Regions from separate parts of the Homo sapiens genome. Here regions 2 and 3 are each linked to region 1. The links come from fine-mapping of genetic effects on gene expression. A gene starts in region 1. Each other region holds a variant in brackets. All regions are shown on one strand. Distances are from middle to middle. Region 1 holds the start of C8orf82 (chromosome 8 open reading frame 82). Region 2 overlaps ARHGAP39 (Rho GTPase activating protein 39). Region 3 overlaps ZNF251 (zinc finger protein 251).

Region 1 (2,757 bases):
GCGGGGGCGCCCGGGGACAGGAGGGATGTCCTGCCGCCCCCAGCCAGGCCGAACTCCGCACTCGCTCTCCCGGCAGAGGGGCCAGAATCGCCCGGCCCAGCCCTGGAGCCCCCTCCACTCCCCCAGGCCCCTGGCCCCGGCGCTCCCCACGTCTTCTGCCTGGTCTGAGGGTGCAGCCAGGGCACAGCAGCGGCGGGGAGGGCGCCTCTGGCCCCCCACCTCACGGCCAGTTCCCGCGGGCACCGCCTCGCCCTCCGCTGGCCGCGGGTCAGCTCCGAGAAAGTGCCTTCTGTGTCCTGGAGCCGAGCGACGCTGCCTCCTTGGGGCCGGGCTGCCTCCCTGTGGCTCCTGCGCGCCCTGGCCTGGGCCTTGCCCAGCCGCCCCGGTCTCTCCTTCCCTTTCTCCTGTCCTCGTCCTGGCCTGCAGCTCTTCCCAGCCCCGAGAGAGCTTCCCGACCTGTCCCCGCCTCCTCTCCCTCCCTCGGCCCGTGGTCCCCAGCTGGTGACTGCTCAGGAGTTTGGGGGCTCCAGGACAGTGGGCCCGGGGCCTGGCAGGCTCTCGGTGGGTGGGGTGGGGGCCCCCAAACCAAAGTCCTCTGGGGTAGGGAGCAGGGCTGGGCAGGCATTCTGGGGGCAGGGTGGGGGAGGGGCGAGAGTATTTTTTTCTTCGTGTAACTGTAAATCCAGAATCTATCCTGCATCGCAGCCCACCGTGTATAGAGATATAAATAGAGGGAAAGATATAAGAACTAAATTTGCTAATGACATAGTTTTAACCTAAATGCTATTTATCTCTGAGCCGTCCCCGTCCTCCGTGCAGAGCAAGTTGAGGTCATTCCTTCTTTTCTTCTCCGATCTTTTTTCTTGGCTTCTGACCAAAAACCAAGCTCTACCCCATCCCCATCCCAGACCTGCAGGAGACGAGCGAGCGGGAAGGCGCCGGGCCCGGGACTGTCCGTTCTCGGGGCCAGAGCTGCTGGGGGACCGAGTTTGTACATTTTCCATTTTGGAATTTTGAGTTCCAATTGTTGTAAAACTTAATTTCTCCCCAGTTTTTATATATATATTTTTTAGAGTTCCGTTTTTATTTATTAAAAACAAAAGCCCCAGCCCTGCCGAGGCCTGGGCGGCGTCCTCAGTCGGGTGGTCCCGGGGCCTTTGCGGTCCCGCCCGGCTGAGACGCTCGCCCCGACGCATGGACCCGAGAGGCGACGACACGAGTGAATAAAGTGCACATGGACCCTGCGCGTCCTCCCGTTCCTTGTGGGCGCGGCCGGGGGCGGGAAGAGACGCGGGGCGGACCGGAAGGGGCGTCACCGGCACACGCCTCTCGGAAGGCCAGGGCGGGCGAGCCCCCGAGGCCCGAGGGAGAGGGAAGAGCGCCGGGCCCGGGTCGCGGAGGCGGGCGCCGCCGGAACGCGAAGCGCGGGGCTACTGCGGGCAGGCGCGAGTTCGCGCAGCACCGCCCCCGGCGTGACCTGCTGGTCGCTTCCGGCGCGGGAGGAGAATGTGGCCGCCTTGCGGGACGCTCCGGACCCTGGCCTTGGCGCGGTCGCGGGGAGCCCGGGCCTGCAGCGGGGATGGGGGCGTTTCCTACACGCAGGGCCAGAGTCCGGAGCCGCGGACCCGCGAGTATTTCTACTACGTGGACCACCAGGGCCAGGTGGGCGGGGGCAGGGCCGTTGCTCGAGAGGCGGGGCCGGGAGAGGTCTCTGGGCGGGGCGGGGGGGGGGGCGTGGCTCTGTGGGCGGGACCATTGCTCGAGGGGCGGGGCCGGAGGGACGTTCCAGGGGGTGGGTGGGTGGGCGGGGCCTGCGCGGTGGGCAACCTCGACTCCTCAGAGCTGGAGGAGAGCGCGCTGGAAAGACGGGGAGTTGGGTCGGTCCGGGCCGAGGCTCCTACATGGGCCGCGTCCCTGCTGCGTTGTGCAGCTTCGGACTCTGTCCTACAAGTCCCCAGCCCCGGCGCTGACTTCTCGCCGCTGCCAGGGAGACACCCGGGCCGCCCTGCCTTTTTTTGGAAGCCCTGTCAAAAGGCAGCTGCATGTCCGGGAGGCAGCAGGCCAGGTAGTCTCCGCGGAGGAGGTGGTACAACTGATTACAAACTTGAAAAGAGGGAAAAGGTGCGGGAAAGAATTGGCTGACCAGGGAGCAGAGGTGCGCATAGACGCGGATAAGTCGGCGGGGCCCCCAGGTTTACCTTTCACGCGCCTCCCTGCATGCGGTGTGCACAGACAAGCAGGAAAAGTGGGCTCGGGCCGGTTCAGGACCTCCCGAGCTTCAGGACCTCCTGAGCTTCCCCGCCCCCACCTGCACGCTGGGACTTATCACGGCCTGGCCCTCTATCTGCAGCTTTTCCTGGATGATTCCAAAATGAAGAATTTCATCACCTGCTTCAAAGGTAATGCTGTGCCTCCCTCTCCAGCCCCTTCTTTCTCCCTTCCGGGCAGCCCCTGATGGGCTCCCCGACTCTGCCGACGGGCCCAGCGCACCAAGGAGTGGGCGTCCTGCGCTCAGGAGCCCCGCTGAGTGAGGCCAGGCGAACCTCTTACCGTCGGCGCCTGCCCTCGGTATGGTCCTGGGCCCGGAGGCCTTGGGAGCCCAGCGCGCTGAGTACACGCACCCTTCATCCCCCAGACCCGCAGTTCCTGGTCACCTTCTTCTCCCGCCTGAGACCCAACCGCAGCGGGCGCTACGAGGCCGCTTTCCCCTTCCTCTCGCCCTGCGGCAGAGAGCGCAACTTCCTGCGCTGCGAGGAC
Region 2 (2,757 bases), 54 kb before region 1:
GCCACCGCACCTGGCCAGAAACTCAATTTAAGATAGAGCTCCCATTGTCCATCACTGAGGAAACAAAGCTATTTAACAAGCTATCCTAAGATCCCTTTCTATCCATATGGGAAAATGAAATTTCACACAGTAAACAAAAATCAGTGCAGGCAGATTAATGACTTCAGTGTGAAAAGCAACTGAAGTGCACCCACCATGCCCGGCTAATTTTTGTGTTTTTTGTAGAGATGGGGTTTCACCACGTTGCCCAGGCTGGTCTCAAACTCCTGAGCTCAAGTGATCCGCCTGCCTTGGCTTCCCAAATTGCTGGGATTACAGGCATGAGCCACCGCACTTGGCCAGTTAATCTCTTTTAATATTTGGCTTTAGACTTCCAGTAATTTTCTAGACAACTATATACATGTAAACACATATGCCACTTTTAAAAATAAAGCTATATAACTTTATCTCATTATAAACTGTGACAGTCCTTCCTTGTCATTAAGTTTGCATTTGAATTAAAACACCCCTGCGGGGAGATACCGTTTATCCCCTTGAGTGATGTGCTGGACAGGCCAATATAAGAGTGCAGATGCTTCAGGGAAACATTGCCCACTAAATCCTTAACACTTTAAAACTGGACACTTGGAAAGATTCATTGCATGTCATACATGGAATATGCACCATTTTATAGGAAGATAATATGTGGGTTTTTTTTCCAATGACAGTAGTAATCTTGTGAATATTGTGGAACACTTGGAAAATACAGAAAAATAGAAACCTCTGTAACCTGCCACCCCCACAACAGCACCGCCAACATGACAAATTCTTGATCGTGTGACTCTCAGAATAGAATTCCAGCCAGCAAGGGTGACGGTGTGCTGGCCAGCTCAGTGGAGCACGCAGGCAGGAAGCATCCATGGTGCTCAAAGTCGTGGGTTAAAGTGGAGGAGAAACAGGATGTCAGGGGCCTTACGGGATCCCCACGAGATCCTCGTAGCTGGGGAGACGGCACAGGATGCTACGGTGGGGAACCTTAGTGGGCACCCAGTCCCGCCCGGGCCGTGGGCAGACCCCGTCTGTGCCTCCACGTGCCGAGCAGTTGTCTCCTGAGCTGCTCACCCCACAATGCGTGCGCCACTTCCTGTTGCGGTTTCAGGGAGGTGACACGCGGTGAATCTGGGTGAAGGCTGTTAACCTTTTTGAAAATATGAAATTATAAAACAAAAAGTTAAAACTTTAAAAATAAAAGGAAGAGAACATGATCAGTGGTATCAAAAGTGGCACAGCTCCCTCGGGACTGAAAGGTGCTGCCTAGATTTGTTCGTCAGGAGCGACTGGGGGACCCACTGTGGGCTGGGAGGGAGGGGCTGGGCAGCTATTGGTGCCTGGCGAGACCCCGGGCTGAGAAGGGAAAGCACGGACCAGAGCGGG[G/A]GTGGCCCCTGTTGCGTGTGGTTTGCTGGACGGTGGACGGTGGAGTGGGTGTGTACGCCAAGGGTGTGGCGAGACATGCAGGTGGAAGTTCAGAGTCTGGGGCCTGTGGAGGGTCTGAGCCGAGCAAGCCGAGGCATTTGTTTGGGGGGAGTTGTTGGCAGATGTACTCAAGCTGAGCAAAACAACAGGACCCCCACCACCTCGCCTTCCCACGGGGATGACGGTGAAACATCCACAGGCGGGCCTCAGGAGTTCTCATCTGCCTTCCCCTGCAGCCCTCCACCACCAGCCCATCCCCAGGGTGCCCCTTCTCTCACTGGCCCTCCTTCATTGGACTTCTGAGTGCACCACTGTGGTGTCTGCACTCAGGCCCAGTCCCACCCGCCTCATCCTCCTCCTGCAGCCAGACCCCTGAGCCAGCTCCTTCCCCACGTAAGGCCCTGAGCACGCCCACCTCATGGCCCCACGTGGACTGTCCCTCGGTGCCTTCTGCCTGTGGCATCCAAACACAGAGGAGCAAACAGTGCCCAGTGGCCAGGGCCTGAAGGAGGGCTTGGGTGGCAAGGCCTGTTTCTCAGCTGCTCATCTGCATCAGCAAGAAACAGACCCAGAACCCCCAGGGCTGCTGCTGGGGCCGCCGCCACTGTGTGAGGGCCCGGCTTCCCCAGCTGGCCTCTGGGGGTGGCGGGGACAGACTCCGCCTGGATCCTTGGTGTCCTACGAGCAGGTGTGGTGCGCATCACAGCCTGTTTTCAGAGCCGCCGTGTCCCTGGCCTGGTTTCAAAGGGTGGGACGTGGGATGAAGGTCGCCCCCGCAGCCAGTCTGCGCCGGCCGCCAGGGGGGCTCTTTCTGTCCTTGACCTGGGGGAGCCGCAGGCAGCCCCCACTAGCCCGTGTCTGGGCCTGGTGTCCGCTGGCCCTTCTGCCCTCACCACTTGCCTCCCCTTCTGTTGAGCCCCTGGGATTAGTGCATTTTCCCTGGAAACGAGACCCCTCACCAGCCCGGTGATGGCGAGGACCAGGCCTGTCGCAGGGCTAACGAGACACCTCACCAGCCCGGTGATGGCGAGGACCAGGCCTGTCGCAGGGTTAAGAGACGGATGCATGGGTCCATGGGAACGCCTCCTGGCAGCATCTTTGCTGAGAGGCTCTTGGTGCCTCTAAGGGTTTTTGTTTCCGTGTAGAAACATGGAAGAGGCCTCAGAAACGTTACTGAGCTGGAGGCTGTGCCCCCAGCGGGGGTCTGAGGGCCGGGTGGAGACTCTGCCCCCCATCGGGGGTCTGAGAGCCAGCTGGGCCCTTGGCCTTGCTGATCTGGGGGATCCTTGGGAGAACACAGCTTGG
Region 3 (2,757 bases), 190 kb before region 1:
CAACATCGGATCATTCACACAGGAGAGAAACCCTACAAGTGTAATGAATGTGGAAGAGGCTTTAGCCAGAGCCCCCAGTTAACTCAGCATCAGAGAATTCACACTGGAGAGAAGCCGCATGAATGCAGTCACTGTGGGAAGGCCTTCAGTCGAAGCTCCAGCCTTATTCAGCATGAGAGAATTCACACTGGAGAGAAGCCCCATAAATGCAATCAGTGTGGGAAGGCCTTCAGTCAGAGCTCAAGCCTTTTCCTCCATCATCGGGTTCATACTGGAGAGAAACCCTATGTATGTAATGAATGCGGCAGAGCCTTTGGTTTTAACTCTCATCTTACTGAACACGTAAGGATTCACACAGGAGAAAAACCCTATGTTTGTAATGAGTGCGGCAAAGCCTTTCGTCGGAGTTCCACTCTTGTTCAGCATCGAAGAGTTCACACTGGGGAGAAGCCCTACCAGTGCGTTGAATGTGGGAAAGCTTTCAGCCAGAGCTCCCAGCTCACCCTACATCAGCGAGTTCACACTGGAGAGAAGCCCTATGACTGTGGTGACTGTGGGAAGGCCTTCAGCCGGAGGTCAACCCTCATTCAGCATCAGAAAGTTCACAGCGGAGAGACTCGTAAGTGCAGAAAACATGGTCCAGCCTTTGTTCATGGCTCCAGCCTCACAGCAGATGGACAGATTCCCACTGGAGAGAAGCACGGCAGAGCCTTTAACCATGGTGCAAATCTCATTCTGCGCTGGACAGTTCACACTGGTGAGAAATCCTTTGGATGTAATGAATATGGAAAAGCTTTCAGTCCCACCTCACGACCCACTGAAGATCAGATAATGCATGCTGGGGAAAAGCCCTATAAATGTCAAGAATGTGGAAACGCCTTCAGTGGAAAGTCAACCCTTATTCAACATCAGGTAACTCACACTGGTCAGAAACCATGTCATTGCAGTGTGTATGGGAAAGCCTTCAGCCAGAGTTCACAGCTCACACCACCTCAGCAGACTCGTGTTGGAGAGAAACCTGCTTTAAATGATGGCTCTAAAAGATACTTTATTCATATCAAGAAGATTTTCCAAGAAAGACATTTTTAATGTGATAAATGCAGAAGACAGTTTAGCAACTGTTCACTTGACATTAGAAGATAAGATGGCATAATGAAAGATATATAAGGTCTAAATATTACTGGCAAAGTAAAATAAATAGTTCAGATGACTACTAAAGTCAAAGTCATTAAATCTGGAAGTAAACACGAGAATTCATTCTGGGAAATCAGGCTGTCTGTGTAAAGGTTACTGCTGTGCTCAGGAGTTGAACC[G/A]TGTGGTGCTGTATCCGGATACTCATGACGAATGGATGGAGGGCGTGAAAAGTGAGCCCAGCTGGTGCTCTGGGTCTACCCTACCTGACATCCTTCCAGTCTTATCCTTTGTTTCCTATCCAGGCCCAGGCTTGTGGCTGAGAACATCCACTTTCAGTCCCATATACCTGCCTCCAAGTGTGGTACAGAGAACTTGGGCCTGCTGGGGGCGCTTAGCCTTACTCTCTCCACCACCTCTCCCACCAACCCCCAGATGAACTGCAGGTAGACGTTTCTTCCTTGCTTGGAGCCCCAGTTTTTGCATTTCATTTTCATTAAAATGAAAGGTGGTTTGGTTTTGGTTCTAAGGAGCTCTACAGTTTAACAGAGAGAGGGACCTTAGGGGCCAAGAAAGCAGGGGCCTACCAAGTATCTCCACTTTTGAAAATTGTAATTACTGATAAAAAATTTTTTAAAGGCAGGTTTATTGAAGCATAATTTATAAACAATAAAATTTACTCTTTTTAGTGTATAGTTCTTTGGGCTTTGACAAAAACATACAATTGTGCCACTACCACATTCCAGACATTGAACATCTTCACCACCACCCAGAATTCCTTTGTGCTCTCTTGTGGTTAACCCCTCCTCAACCCCAGTCCGTGGAAACCACTGGTTTGTTTTCTATCCTCTATCCATCACCTCACCATTTCCAGAAATAGTGTGCAGCTGTTTGCACGTGGCTGCTTTTACTGAACATGATGCATTGGAGTCATCCATATTGCCTGTGTAGAGTGCTTTTTTGCACCGAGTAGCATTCCATTGTATGGATGGAGCCATTTGTTTATCCGTTCACCCATGGCAGGGTATTTGGGCATTTTCAGTATGGGCAACTATGATTAAAGCTGCCATCACTGTGTATCAACTACAGGCTGTTTTGTGAATCTAACTTTTCAGTTATCTTGGGTAAATAGGAGTGGGATTGCTGGGTCATATGGTAAGCTTATGTTTAACATTTTAAGAAACTGCCAAACTTTTACAAAGTCAGTTGTATATCCCCACTGATGATGTGTGAGTTTAGTTGCTTTGAATCCTCACCAGATCTTGGTATTGTCCTTTTTTTTTTTTTTTTTTTTCCGAGGCGGAGTTTTGCTCTTGTTGCCCAGGCTGGAGTGCAATGGCGCGATCACGGCTCACCACAACCTCCGCCTCCCGGGTTCAATTCAAACGGTTCTCCTGCCTCAGCCTCCTGAGAAGCTGGGATTAGAGGCATGCACCACCACGCCCGGCTAATTTTGTATTTTTAGTAGAGACGGGGTTTCTCTATGTTGGTCAGGCTGGTCTCCAACTCCCGACCTCAGGTGATCCACCCACCTCAGCCTCCCAAAGCGCTGGGATTACAGGCATAAGCCAACGTGCCCAGCAGTATTGTCCATTTTTTAATATTCTAGCTATTTTAGTGGAGATG

What was found.
Region 2: its variant is fine-mapped to the expression of C8orf82 in whole blood (INTERVAL, PIP 0.96).
Region 3: its variant is fine-mapped to the expression of C8orf82 in whole blood (TOPMed, PIP above 0.99).

What each region holds. Positions count from the first base shown.
Region 1 is chr8:144,527,666-144,530,422 of GRCh38, reverse strand. It overlaps C8orf82 (chromosome 8 open reading frame 82), which reads left to right and starts at 1,312. Exons shown (of 3, transcript NM_001001795.2): 1 at 1,312-1,662; 2 at 2,351-2,399; 3 at 2,636-2,757. The coding sequence starts at 1,507. ARHGAP39 (Rho GTPase activating protein 39) reads left to right here. Exons shown (of 12, transcript NM_025251.3): 12 at 1-1,244. The coding sequence ends at 1. RefSeq lists silencers at 346-445, 1,177-1,766, 1,777-1,826, 1,784-2,078 and an enhancer at 1,807-2,663.
Region 2 is chr8:144,581,740-144,584,496 of GRCh38, reverse strand. The region is part of intron 2 of ARHGAP39 (Rho GTPase activating protein 39); the gene reads left to right. Among named protein-coding and RNA genes, the nearest start is that of C8orf82, 54 kb to the right of the region's middle. The variant G/A (reference allele first, on the strand shown) is at 1,414.
Region 3 is chr8:144,719,976-144,722,732 of GRCh38, reverse strand. ZNF251 (zinc finger protein 251) reads left to right here. Exons shown (of 5, transcript NM_138367.2): 5 at 1-1,824. The coding sequence ends at 1,089. Among named protein-coding and RNA genes, the nearest start is that of ZNF251, 34 kb to the left of the region's middle. The variant G/A (reference allele first, on the strand shown) is at 1,314.